Homo sapiens: one gene and its partners. The protein of the gene in region 1 interacts with the protein of each later gene in a biochemical or structural test. Each region holds a gene or a part of one and is shown on either strand. Other genes may lie near its edges. The genes, in order: CPSF1, PAPOLA and TAF5.

Region 1 (3,752 bases):
GGCAACTCCAGGGCTTCACCCGCAAATTCTACCAAAGGTTTCAGAAGTAATGACACACTTAAAAAAAAAACACACACCCACTCATGTGGGGCTGACGGCACCGCAGGTGGCTCAGGCCACCCCAACAGCCCACAGACAGGTGGGACAGGAAGTGACACCAACCTCCTCAAAACGCCTGCAGATGAGCCCAGTGACAAGCAGGGGTATTGTAACACAACTGGGTTGAGTTATTCCAGGAACGCAAAACTAGATTTCCGCAAGAACAGCCATCGCTAAACTTACCATGCTGTCAAAATTAAGGAGAAAAATCATGTCATTTTAGTGGATACAAAAAAAGCATCTGATAAAGGCATTCGTGATAAAAACTCCTAGTAAAGCAAAAATAGGAGGAAAATTTTTTTTTTTTTTTTGAGATGGAGTCTCACTTTGTTGCCCAGGCTGGAGTGCAATGGTGTGATTTTGGCTCACTGCAACCTCTGCCTTCCAGGTTCAAGCGATTCTCCTGTCTCAGCCTCCTCAGTAGCTGGGATTATAGGCGCCCACCACCACGTCCAGCTAATTTTTGTATTTTTAGTACAGACAGGGTTTTGCCATGGCCAGGCTGGTCTTCAACCCCTGACCTCAAGCGATACACTCACCTCGGCCTCTCAAAGCGCTGGGATTACAGGCATGAGCCACCACGCCAGGCCTTTGTTTTTTGACATAGGGCCTCACTGTCTCCCAGGTTGGAGTGCAGAGGAGCAATCATGTTTCACTGCAGCCTCGACCTCCTGGGCTTAGGTGATCCTCCCACCTCAGCCTCCTGAGTAGCTGGGACCACATGTGAGTCACCACACCTGACTAATTTATTTATTTTTTTAAATTTTGAGACAGAGTCTCACTCTGTCACCCAGGCTGGAGGGCAGTAGTGTGATCTCAGCTCCCTGCAACCTCTGCCTCCTGGGTTCAAGCAATTCTCCTGCCTCAGCCTCCCAAGTAGCTGGGATTACAGGCATGTGCTACCATGCCCGGCTATTTTTGTATTTTTAATAGATAGGGTTTTGCCATGTTGGCCAGGATGGTCTCGAACCCCTGACCTCAGGTGATCCACCCACCTTGGCCTCCCAAAGTGCAAGGATTATAGACATGAGCCACCGCGCCCAACTTCCTTAATCAAATAAAGGGTATCTACAAAAAGTCTACAGCAATGTGGTGCTGGGAGTGAAACATTACAAGTTTTCCCTTTTGAGGCCGGGCACAGTGGCTCACGCCTGTAATCCCAGCACTTTGGGAGGCCGAGGTGGGTGGATCACCTGAGGTAAGGAGTTCGAGACCAGTCTAGCCAACATGGTGACATAGTGAAATCCCGTCTCTACTAAAAATACAAAAATTAGCTGGGTGTGGTGGCAGGTGCCTGTAGTCCCAGCTACTCAGGAGGCTAAGGCAGGAGAATCGCTTGAATCCGGGAGGCGGAGGTTGCAGTGAGCCAAGATCATGCCATTGCACTCCAGCCTGGGGGACAAGAGAGAGACTTGGTCTCAAAAAAACAAACAAAAAAAGAAGTTTTCCCTCTTGGTCAGGACCAGCCAAGGACGCCTGATCCACTCTGCCAAGTATAAGGTCAATATACAGAGATCAACTGCACTTCTGTGTACATGCAAGAAACAGGGGTAACCACTCAGAAGAATTTTTTTTTTTTTTGAGACGGAGTCTTGCTCTGTCGCCAGGCTAGAGTGCAGTGGCACAATCTTGGCTTACTGCAAGCTCTGCCTCCCAGGTTCAAGCCATTCTCCTGCCTCAGCTTACCGAGTAGCTGGGACTACAAGCGCCCACCACCACGCCTAATTTTTTTTTTTTTTGTATTTTAGTAGACTCGGGGTTTCACCATCTTGGACAGGCTGGTCTTGAACTCCTGAGCTCAGGCAATCCACCCACCTCGGCCTGCCAAAGTGCTGGGATTACAGGCGTGAGCCACTGCGCCCGGCCACCACTCAGAAGGATTTTAAGAAAAATGTGTACATAGTCAAATGGTCTAACTGGCATGTTGGGGGAAAGGGGACAGAATCAATAGCTAAAGAAATAGCGACCAAAGGCTGGGCGTGGTGGCTCACGCCTGTAATCCCAGCACTTTGGGAGGCTGAGGCAAGCGGATCACGGGGTCAGGCGATCGAGACCATCCTGGCTAACACGGTGAAACCCCGTCTCTACTAAAAATACAAAAACATTAGTCGGGCGCCTGTAGTCCCAGCTACTCAGGAGGCTGAGGCAGGGGAATCGCTTGAACCCAGGAGGTGGAGCTTGCAGTGAGCCGAGATTGTGCCACTGCACTCCAGCCTGGGTGATAGAGCGAGACTCCGTCTAAAAAAAAAAAGAGAAAGAAAGAAAGAAAAAAAAACCTTGAAAATCTGAATAAGAGGACGTTTACAGGGTTTCAAAATAAGTCCCTACAAGATACTTTTAGTTACAAAAGGAAGAAATAACCTTACAGTGGGGGAATCCAGGCCAACACTACCCAACCAAGCATCAAAGCATCAGCATCCAGTCATGAGGCAAAGGCCTCCGCCGCCTCCTGAAAGCTGATGGGGCTGCTGTTTGCCTCTTCTGTGGTGTTCCTGTCAAAAATACAAATGTCTCATCTAAACACCTGGGAATGTCTTGGCCGGGCTCCGTGGCTCACACCTGTAATCCCAGCACTTTGGAAGGCCAAGGCGGGTGGATCACTTGAGGTCAGGAGTTCGAGACCAGCCTGGCCAACATGGTGAAACCCCATCTCTACCAAAAATACAAAAAATTAGCTGGGTGTGGTGGCAGGCGCCTGTAATCCCAGCTACTCGGGAGGTTGAGGCAGGAGAACTGCTTGAACCCGGGAGGCAGAGGTTGCAGTGAGCTGAGATCGCACTGTTGCACTCTATCCTGGGTGACAGAGGGAGACTCTCTCTCAAAAAAGAAAAAAAAAAGACAGCTGTATGAAAGGTGGCTGTCTCCCTCCCTCTCCAGGTGAATCTGGGCTGGAGGCTGCCTTTAGGGCAGACTGTGGTGGCAGGGACGGTGCCCTCCTGGTCTAGCCCTTAAAGTGACTGGCAGCTTCTGCCTTAGCCTCCTAGGGCTCTGAGTTCCTGCAAGAAGCTCAACTACACCAACACCACCATGCTGCCAGGAAAACCAAGCTAGCCATGCTGGGGACAGGGGAGAGTGGAGGGACGGTGTGGGGGTAGGGGAAGACACATCTAGCCTGTCCCCAGCTCTTCAAGTCATCCCTGTCAAGGCTTGCCCTGGTGGAGGAGAGCCAAGGGCTCCCCACACTCTGATGAATCCCTGAAAACCTGGCTTCCAGGTCTGCGATTATGATAAAAGACCTCGTTTGCATATTCCAGGGCAGTTAGTTACAGAGCCACGACTAGACTGACCCCAGGAGGATGGCTTGAGCACAGGAGTTCGAGGCCAGCCTGGACAACATAGCAAGACCCCGTTTCTTAAAAACAAAAAACAAAACAGAAGAAGAAAACCTCTTTTCCTGCTATTTATGGCTCCATTTCTTGCTTCAGTTTACGCACATCTCCTCCAGAGTTGTCTGTGTTCACTGTTACTGACTCTCCTCCCCTGCTGGGCTCTTACCCCTGCTCCATTCAGACCACAACCCCTCGTGCCCACCAGACTGCCCTGTCAGTCACCAGGCATCACCTGAGGCTCAACAGCGTGGGACCCAGTGTCGAGTCCCTCCCAGCTGCCTTCCCTGGGCCTCCAGGGCCCTGTCCAGCTTTCCCCCTGCCTTC
Region 2 (3,752 bases), on another chromosome or scaffold:
GGACCCCTGAGGTTGTTTTTACCGATTCAATCTCAGTTTTATTGAATTCTTGATAACAGGAATAGGATTTGCAGGGAGAGCAGGGATATCAGAAAGGTCTGTACTGGATGTTTTCTGAGAATGAAAGCAAAGAACACAACATTGTTCAAAGCACCATAATTTAACAATGAGATGTATTTTCCATTGCTTTACTTCCTAAGAAACCTTCTAAGAAGAAAAGTATTACAAATTTAAAAACTCTATAATGTTGTCAAAATGGAATGTAAATATGCCTATCACATTATTTGTTCAACAAATAATGTGTTCAACAAAGGAATTTTCAAATAGGTATATTTTAATAATATTTTAAAAACTCCTAAGTAATTTCAAATAGTTTTTAAAATTGTTCCTCTAAGAATCACCTATCATATAATGCTTAAGTTACTGCTAAACTGTATTCACTTATTACAACACTAATAGCTGTAATATTAACTAGTATTGGAGCACCCCCAAGTGGGAGAATACTCAAAGCTCATTTTATATACAGAAGCAGCAGTAAATTTATTATTTTCTGACACTGTAAATTAAACAAATATATACAGCTAAGCAATAATTTAATCATCCTAAATTTTAGGTAGATTATTTTCATATTAATTAGATTAAATCACAAGCGTTCTTTAACACTAAAAAAATACAGAGATGGATCTTTAAAAGTTTTATTATGGAAAATTCCAAACATACACAAAGTAGAGAGCACTGTATAATGCATCCCCATGTATTCATTACCCAGCTTCATCAATTATCAAATCAAAGCCACTGTCCTCCCACTTTCAATTCACCTTGTGTTATTCTGAAGCAAATCCTAGAGATCTTATCATTTCATCTATAAATATTTCCAGATTTATCTCAAAACAATAAGAACTCTTTATTAGGTATAGCCACAATATTATCACCTCCCCAGAAATAAGTACGCCCCTAACATTACCAAAGATAGGAATGAATTTTTTTTTAAATCAACATAATCATTCTTCTTACATAACTGGGTGATTTTTCTCTCTATGGCTCTATGAATCCTTTCATTAGAAAGAAAATTCTACTCACTCATAAAAATATCTAAAAGGCAAATACCCATGGGTACTAATTACTATAGGGATAAATTCAGTAAGACAAAACTATGAAAATAAGTCCCGAGAGTATGTGGCAAACCAAAAAACATGCAATCACAATCACAGGACAGTTTAAGACTGATAAACAAGTTTGTCCACGTATCAATATTAAGCATACTTCCTGATGTTAGTTACTCCCCCTAAAGTTTTATTAGATTATGGAAAAGGTATTTCAGAAACTAAACATAATATTTATATATCTTTAGAGTCAATAAAAGTTAACATCTAGCAAAAGCACATGTTTAAATGATCACGTTAAAATAACTCGGAGCTGCACAGGAGCAGCAAAATATCATCATAGTACATAGTATCATATCAGTACAGCAGCAGTTGTTATCTCAGTTACTTTGTAGACATTAACCAGTTTTATCATCTATTAAAGAATATATCTACTTTGTGTCAGAATTTGAGCTAGATGTTAGGGTTCATTCATGTGAAAGGATTCAAGAAAAAAATTATTCAACAAAATGAAGGTTCACAAATCAATGAAAAAAGATTCCAGATGCCTACTGTATTCTGTATGTGAGGGTCTGTCACAAGTAGAATTGCTAGGACAAATGAAAACATAATTCTGAAGAGCTATGGGCTATATTAAATAACTAACTGAAATCAGTAGTGGAAAAATAAGGCAGAAATACATTTTTAAAATAAAAATATATTAGCCTTTGCAAAAGAAATCCACGAAGAATGTTTTTTAGTTCATTCCTAGTTTTAATTTCACTTTTGACCTACAAATAAAACCTACATATGAACCCTGTGTAAATGACTAGTGAGAATTTAAATGATTTGCAGTATCAAATAATATATTAATATAAGGGGATGGGTTAACATCGAAACAGTCCCAGAGAACGGTTCCGTCAAATCCAGGGCCCTGCCTTAAAACTACAATAAATACGTTTATAGGCTAGCAAGTAATTACTTTCAGAAAGATTAATTTTAATAGTCTTCTATGAACTCTCACTTTAATTCAATATACCACACTAATCTTAAGGACATTTACAAAATTCTCCTTGCTTTTTGCACTTAGTACCTGAGAGGCCAACAGAGAAGCCGCTGTCTGAATAGTTTCTGATTGAGTTGTACTTGTCTCTGTATCAAGTTGTTCCTGTGAGACAAAGAGGATGGGGAAGGGGGAAAAGAGACTTAAAAAAGAATAAAAGAACATAACTGGGTTTGGTGGCTAATAAAGAAGACAAACTGGAAGACAGGAGGGATCAAGAGAAAGATGTGACTACATTACAAAAACATCTAGTCAGTAGATGTTGTAGGTTATTTCACCATTTCAGATATTAATAAATTTCTATTTGCCTACTTAAATCTTATAAGGCATGGGTCAAACTAGCTCATGACTTTCCAACCAGCTCCAACTTGGGACATTTTAAGCAAACAATAATTAAAAACACACATAGGCACATCATGAAATGTTGCCCAGACAATAACAGAGCATAAACCCAAGGACAGTTCTTAGCTTTGTGGGAGGAAAAAAAAAAAAAAAAACTTATTCAATACTACTAAATAAAATAACCTCACACCTTTAATTAAAAGTAGAAAATATGTCTAAAAAAGATTTCTCCCTCCTTATGGTCTCTTCACCCCTCTCTAGTAATCAGTGCACTGATTCTACTCATCAGAAAACACAGGGTAAAGTATGTCATGCCATCACTCTAAACTTTTTAAAAGCAGTACACAAAAGAAAATAATATCTACACAAATAAATGAAAATAAAAATATAGGCCAGACGTGGTGGCTCACACCTGTAATCCTAGCACTTTGGGAGGCCGAGGTGGGGAGATCATGACATCAGGAGTTCAAGACCAGCCTGGCCAACATGGTGAAACCCCATCTCTACTAAAAATACAAAATTAGCCAGGCATGGTGGCGGGTGCCTGTAATCCCCACTACTCGGGAGGCTGAGGCAGAAGAATTGCTTGAACCTAGGAGGCAGAGGTTGCAGTGAGCCGAGATTGTCCCACTGCACTCCAGCCTGGGCGACAGAGCAAGACTCCATCTCAAAAAAAACCAAAAAAAGGACAAAGAAGAAAAGAAAAATATAAAAACTTCAATTTCAATGAAACTATACCAAAAAAAAAAAAAACGAAATATTGTTTTCTCCTATGAAATTAAAAAAGGTAAATAAGATGTAAGAAGTAGGAATGGAAGACATGCAGCCTTCCTGGAGGACAACTTGGTGATGTATACCAAACTTTAAGATAAAGCATACTATTTTCCTCAATAATTCTTCTTCCATTAATTTATGCTAAGTAAATAAACATGAATGAATGGCAGATATGGTATTTAGCTGTAACCAATATTACAGCAGGAAAGCACAACTTTCTTTTTTAAATGGAAATAATTGCTATGGATAGGAAATTGGTTGGATAAAAATAATCATAGCCTTAAGACAGCATTCTATGAAGCCATTAATAATTTTGTAGATTACATAATGATACACATACTTTTTTCTTGGTTTACAAAGTGAATCAAAATTATAAAGCAAGGGCATTATGAGGGCACACACAAAACCTAAGAGAGTTTTGTTAAAATATCCATCATAGAAATCTGGATAATTTGGGAGAAGGGGGAGAATTTCCAATTTTTCCACAAGGA
Region 3 (3,752 bases), on another chromosome or scaffold:
CATGGGCCAAGAAAAAAAAAGTTAGTGGATCATTTAACATAGTTTTTGAGTGCCATACAGTAACTACGTTTTTACAGCAGAAACATACATGCTCATAGGATTCTTCAGCTAAAATTCAAGATGATAGTATATTTCTGAATTTGAATCTTGAAGCAGGATGAATTATTGAAATCAACTTTTTTTCTAAATGTAATAAATTAAAATAGCATTTGAACAGAAAATGCATAGTTTCCACACAATCCAAAGCACCATAAATGTCCCCTCCATGATCATAATACCTCTTATTCAACTAACGGAAATTAGTCAAATGTGGTTGCTATAGAAACGTGGAACTGTCCTGTTCAGATTTTTCCAAGCAGCATACTTCCAGATCCATATAGACAAAAACATTCTCTGTAGCTTAAATATTAATCACTGAGGTATTTGCTTTTAGTCTCCCTTTTTAAAAACAGTAGCTTCCAAAAGGTCTTTAATACCGATGGTTTATTGTGGACTATAAGCTCCTGCAGCTAGAACCAGGTTTCTTCGAGTAAAATGAAGGTGTACAACTGGTGTTGATTTGGTCATATATGTTCCCAACAATAACTCCTGTGAATTCTCAGGTAAATTTATATGCCCAGTGGCTGTAGTAAAGTCATCGGTCTCTAAATCTTCAAAGGCTTTGATAGCATCCCATAATCGAACTGTATTATCCATTGAACCTAAGGGGAAGTCAAAGGAAACCATTAGTTGCATCCATCATATTTACATTCGGACATTTTGTCCACTACACTATGTATTTACTGTACATTTTGGGTGAAAAATCTAAACTTGACCAATAACTCTATTCCTTCCTAAGGAGCATTATCAAGCAGTACTTTAACCTGAGAAGTGATTGATGTAGGATGACACTCTGGAATCATAGCTAAAGGGAAGTAAAACCTAAAACATAAGGACTTAGTATTGCAGTCGTCAACACTGTTTCCTCTTAACATAGCATTTATCGTAAAGCCATTAATAGTCATTTACCTGATGCCAAAATTTCACCATCTCTACTAAACCTAAGTGAACAGACTGTATCAGTGTGGCCTTTTAATTCTCCAACCATCAAACCATGTCCAATATCCCAAAGAAGCACTCTGCCATCTGTTGCTCCTGTAGCCAGGAATCTCCCATTGGGAGAAAATGTCAAGGAATGAATTGGTCCCTAGAAAAAAGTTCATAGAAAAGATCAAAGTATGTCTAGGAAAATAAGACAAAATTTTAAAGTTTTGTAGTAAGAATGGTATCTTTAAAATTTATGTGTCACTTGTTTAAAAAATATTTTTATTTTGAAAGCAACCTTGGATGCTGGAATAGTAAGAGTGTAAAATACCTTGTGTCCAGTGAAGATCCTTACACAGTTACCATTCAGGACGTCCCAGAGCCGCACAGTTCTGTCTGCAGAGCCCGTAGCAACATAATTAGAATTTGGATGGAATCTGGTACAATTCACATCAGCAAGATGGCCGGCAAATATTCTTAAAGGCTGATAGTGGTCTGTAGCCCAGAGCCTTTTATAAAGTTATTGAAAGCAAAAGATGACAATTAGTAGATAGCTGTGAAACGCCAAAAATCTATACAAAATAAATACAGAAACATCCACATAAAAAGTTAGTTCTGAGTGGGCCCCCCACTTACTAGTTAACTGAGGGGAAGAAAAATGAGACTCACAGTCCTAAGAGTTCATCTGGTACAATTTTTTTTTTTTTTTAAGCTGAGGTCTTGCCAGGCATGGGGGCTCACGCTTACACTTCTAGCACTTTGGGAGGCCGAGGCATGCAGATCACGAGGTCAGGAGTTCGAGACCAGCCTGACCAACATGGTGAAACACCGTCTTTACTAAAAATACAAAAAATTAGCTGGGCATGGTGGCGCACGCCTGTAATCCCAGCTACTCAGGAAGCTGAGGCAGGAGAATTGCTTGAACCCAGGAGGTAGAGGTTGCAGTGAGCCGAGATGGCGACACTGCACTCCAGCCTGGGTAACAGAGCGAGACTCTGTCTCAAAAAAAAAAAAAAAAATGCTGAGGTCTTGCTCTGTTGCCCAAGCTGGATTCAAACTCGGTTCCAGCAATCCTCCCACCTCAGCCTCCCCAGTAGCTGGGACTATAGGCGTGTACCACTGTAGCCAGCCAAAACTTAAGTTCTAGAACTCCAATTCTCTGTATATTCTTCCTCCTCTATTCCTAGTCTAAACCACAGAAAAGTATTTTCCCCTAGTTCTGGCCACCAAATAGTTGTTTTGTTTTGAGACAGTCTCACTCTGTCATCCAGGCTAGAATGCCGTGGTGCAATCTCGGCTCACTGCAACCTCTGCCTCCTGGGTTCAAGCAATTCTGCCTCAGCCTCCTGAGTAGCTGGGACTACAGGCACGTGCCACCACACCCGGCTAATTTTTGTTTTTTTTTTCAGTAGAGACGGGGTTTCGTCATGTTGGCCAGGCTGGTCTGGAACTTCTGGCCTCAAGTTATCTGCCCTCCTTGGCCTCCCAAAGTGCTGGGATTACAGGCGTGAGCCACTGCACCTGGCCAAATAGTTTCTAACCTGAACTACCTTATCCTCAACTTCTAAGCAGATGACAGAGAAACATAAAGGTGCTCACAGTGGTATGGAAGACAAGGTTAAGTATCTGATGGGGTTGGGAGGGAGGATTGTTAATTAACTATTTTTTAAAAACCAGGATTCATATAGATGTAATTGCAGATATAATAATACTCCTGCCCCAATTTCTTTTCTTTTTTTTTTTTTTTTTTTTTTTTTTGAGATGAAGTCTCGCTCTTGTCCCCTAGGCTGGAGTGCAATGGTGCGATCTCGGCTCACTGCAACCTCCGCCTCTCAGGTTCAAATGATTCTCCTGCCTCAGCCTCCTGAATAGCTGGGATTACAGGTGCCTACCACCACGCCCGGCTAATTTTTGTATTTTTAGTAGAGACGGGGTTCCACCATGTTGGCCAGGCTGGTCTCAAACTCTTGACCTCAGGTGATCCATCCACCTCGGCCTCCCAAAGTGCTGGGATTACAGGCATAAGCCACTGCGCCCGGCCCCAATTTCAAATAAGTTATAAATGCAAAAGCTTCTCAGAAAGTTGAACCTCAATAATGGAAGTGTAAATGAATTTGGCTGGCTGTGTAATTCCCAACAAGAAACCATTCTGTTCATTGAATAGACCCAGTCATAAGATCACAGTGTTCTTACCGAGCTACTCGGTCATGGCCCCCTGACACAAAATAATATCCATATGGAGAAAATTGTGTGTCCCATACTGGATAGTTGTGTCCTTTATATCCCACCAAACAAGTAAATGTTTGAAGGCTCCACAATCTAACAGTTCCGTCCTCTGAAGAGGAAAGCAGATAGTTCCTGAGAGAAGAGAAGGTGATATATTTGACTCCCAGAGTAACCTTTGGTCACCTGCCCAGTTTTATATACATTTGAATACATTTAATATTTTATATATATTTGACTATATTAAATATACCTAACATGCTGCATCTCACTTTTAATTCATACACGCAATTCACAGTAGGTATCAATTGAAAGAACTAACCAAACTAATGTTAACCCTGACACTCTACATATACCGAGCACCTACTGAATGAGGTAATATGATACAAAAACTTAGGGAAAATCAGAGTTCTTTACAAGAAAAAAATAGCAGGGGTAATTAACAAAGTATAGTCAAATAAGGTCAATTGAGAAAGTTTAAGAAATGTGATATGTCACTTAAAACT

Evidence for each region.
Region 2: the proteins of CPSF1 (region 1) and PAPOLA form a complex in vitro, tested with the Homo sapiens proteins (one study listed by BioGRID).
Region 3: the proteins of CPSF1 (region 1) and TAF5 form a complex in vitro, tested with the Homo sapiens proteins (one study listed by BioGRID).

The regions. Positions count from the first base shown.
Region 1 is NC_000008.11:144,402,705-144,406,456, forward strand, and holds part of CPSF1 (cleavage and polyadenylation specificity factor subunit 1), read right to left. Parts: intron 3,130-3,752; exon of another isoform or gene 3,126-3,129; intron 2,592-3,125; exon of another isoform or gene 2,461-2,591; intron 287-2,460; exon of another isoform or gene 163-286; intron 1-162. UniProt on the Homo sapiens protein: Component of the cleavage and polyadenylation specificity factor (CPSF) complex that plays a key role in pre-mRNA 3'-end formation, recognizing the AAUAAA signal sequence and interacting with poly(A) polymerase and other factors to bring about cleavage and poly(A) addition.
Region 2 is NC_000014.9:96,561,317-96,565,068, reverse strand, and holds part of PAPOLA (poly(A) polymerase alpha), read right to left. Parts: intron 2,251-3,752; coding exon 2,176-2,250; intron 115-2,175; coding exon 19-114; 3' UTR 1-18. UniProt on the Homo sapiens protein: Polymerase that creates the 3'-poly(A) tail of mRNA's. Also required for the endoribonucleolytic cleavage reaction at some polyadenylation sites.
Region 3 is NC_000010.11:103,384,955-103,388,706, reverse strand, and holds part of TAF5 (transcription initiation factor TFIID subunit 5), read right to left. Parts: intron 3,382-3,752; coding exon 3,217-3,381; intron 1,533-3,216; coding exon 1,355-1,532; intron 1,187-1,354; coding exon 1,009-1,186; intron 702-1,008; coding exon 484-701; 3' UTR 1-483. UniProt on the Homo sapiens protein: The TFIID basal transcription factor complex plays a major role in the initiation of RNA polymerase II (Pol II)-dependent transcription.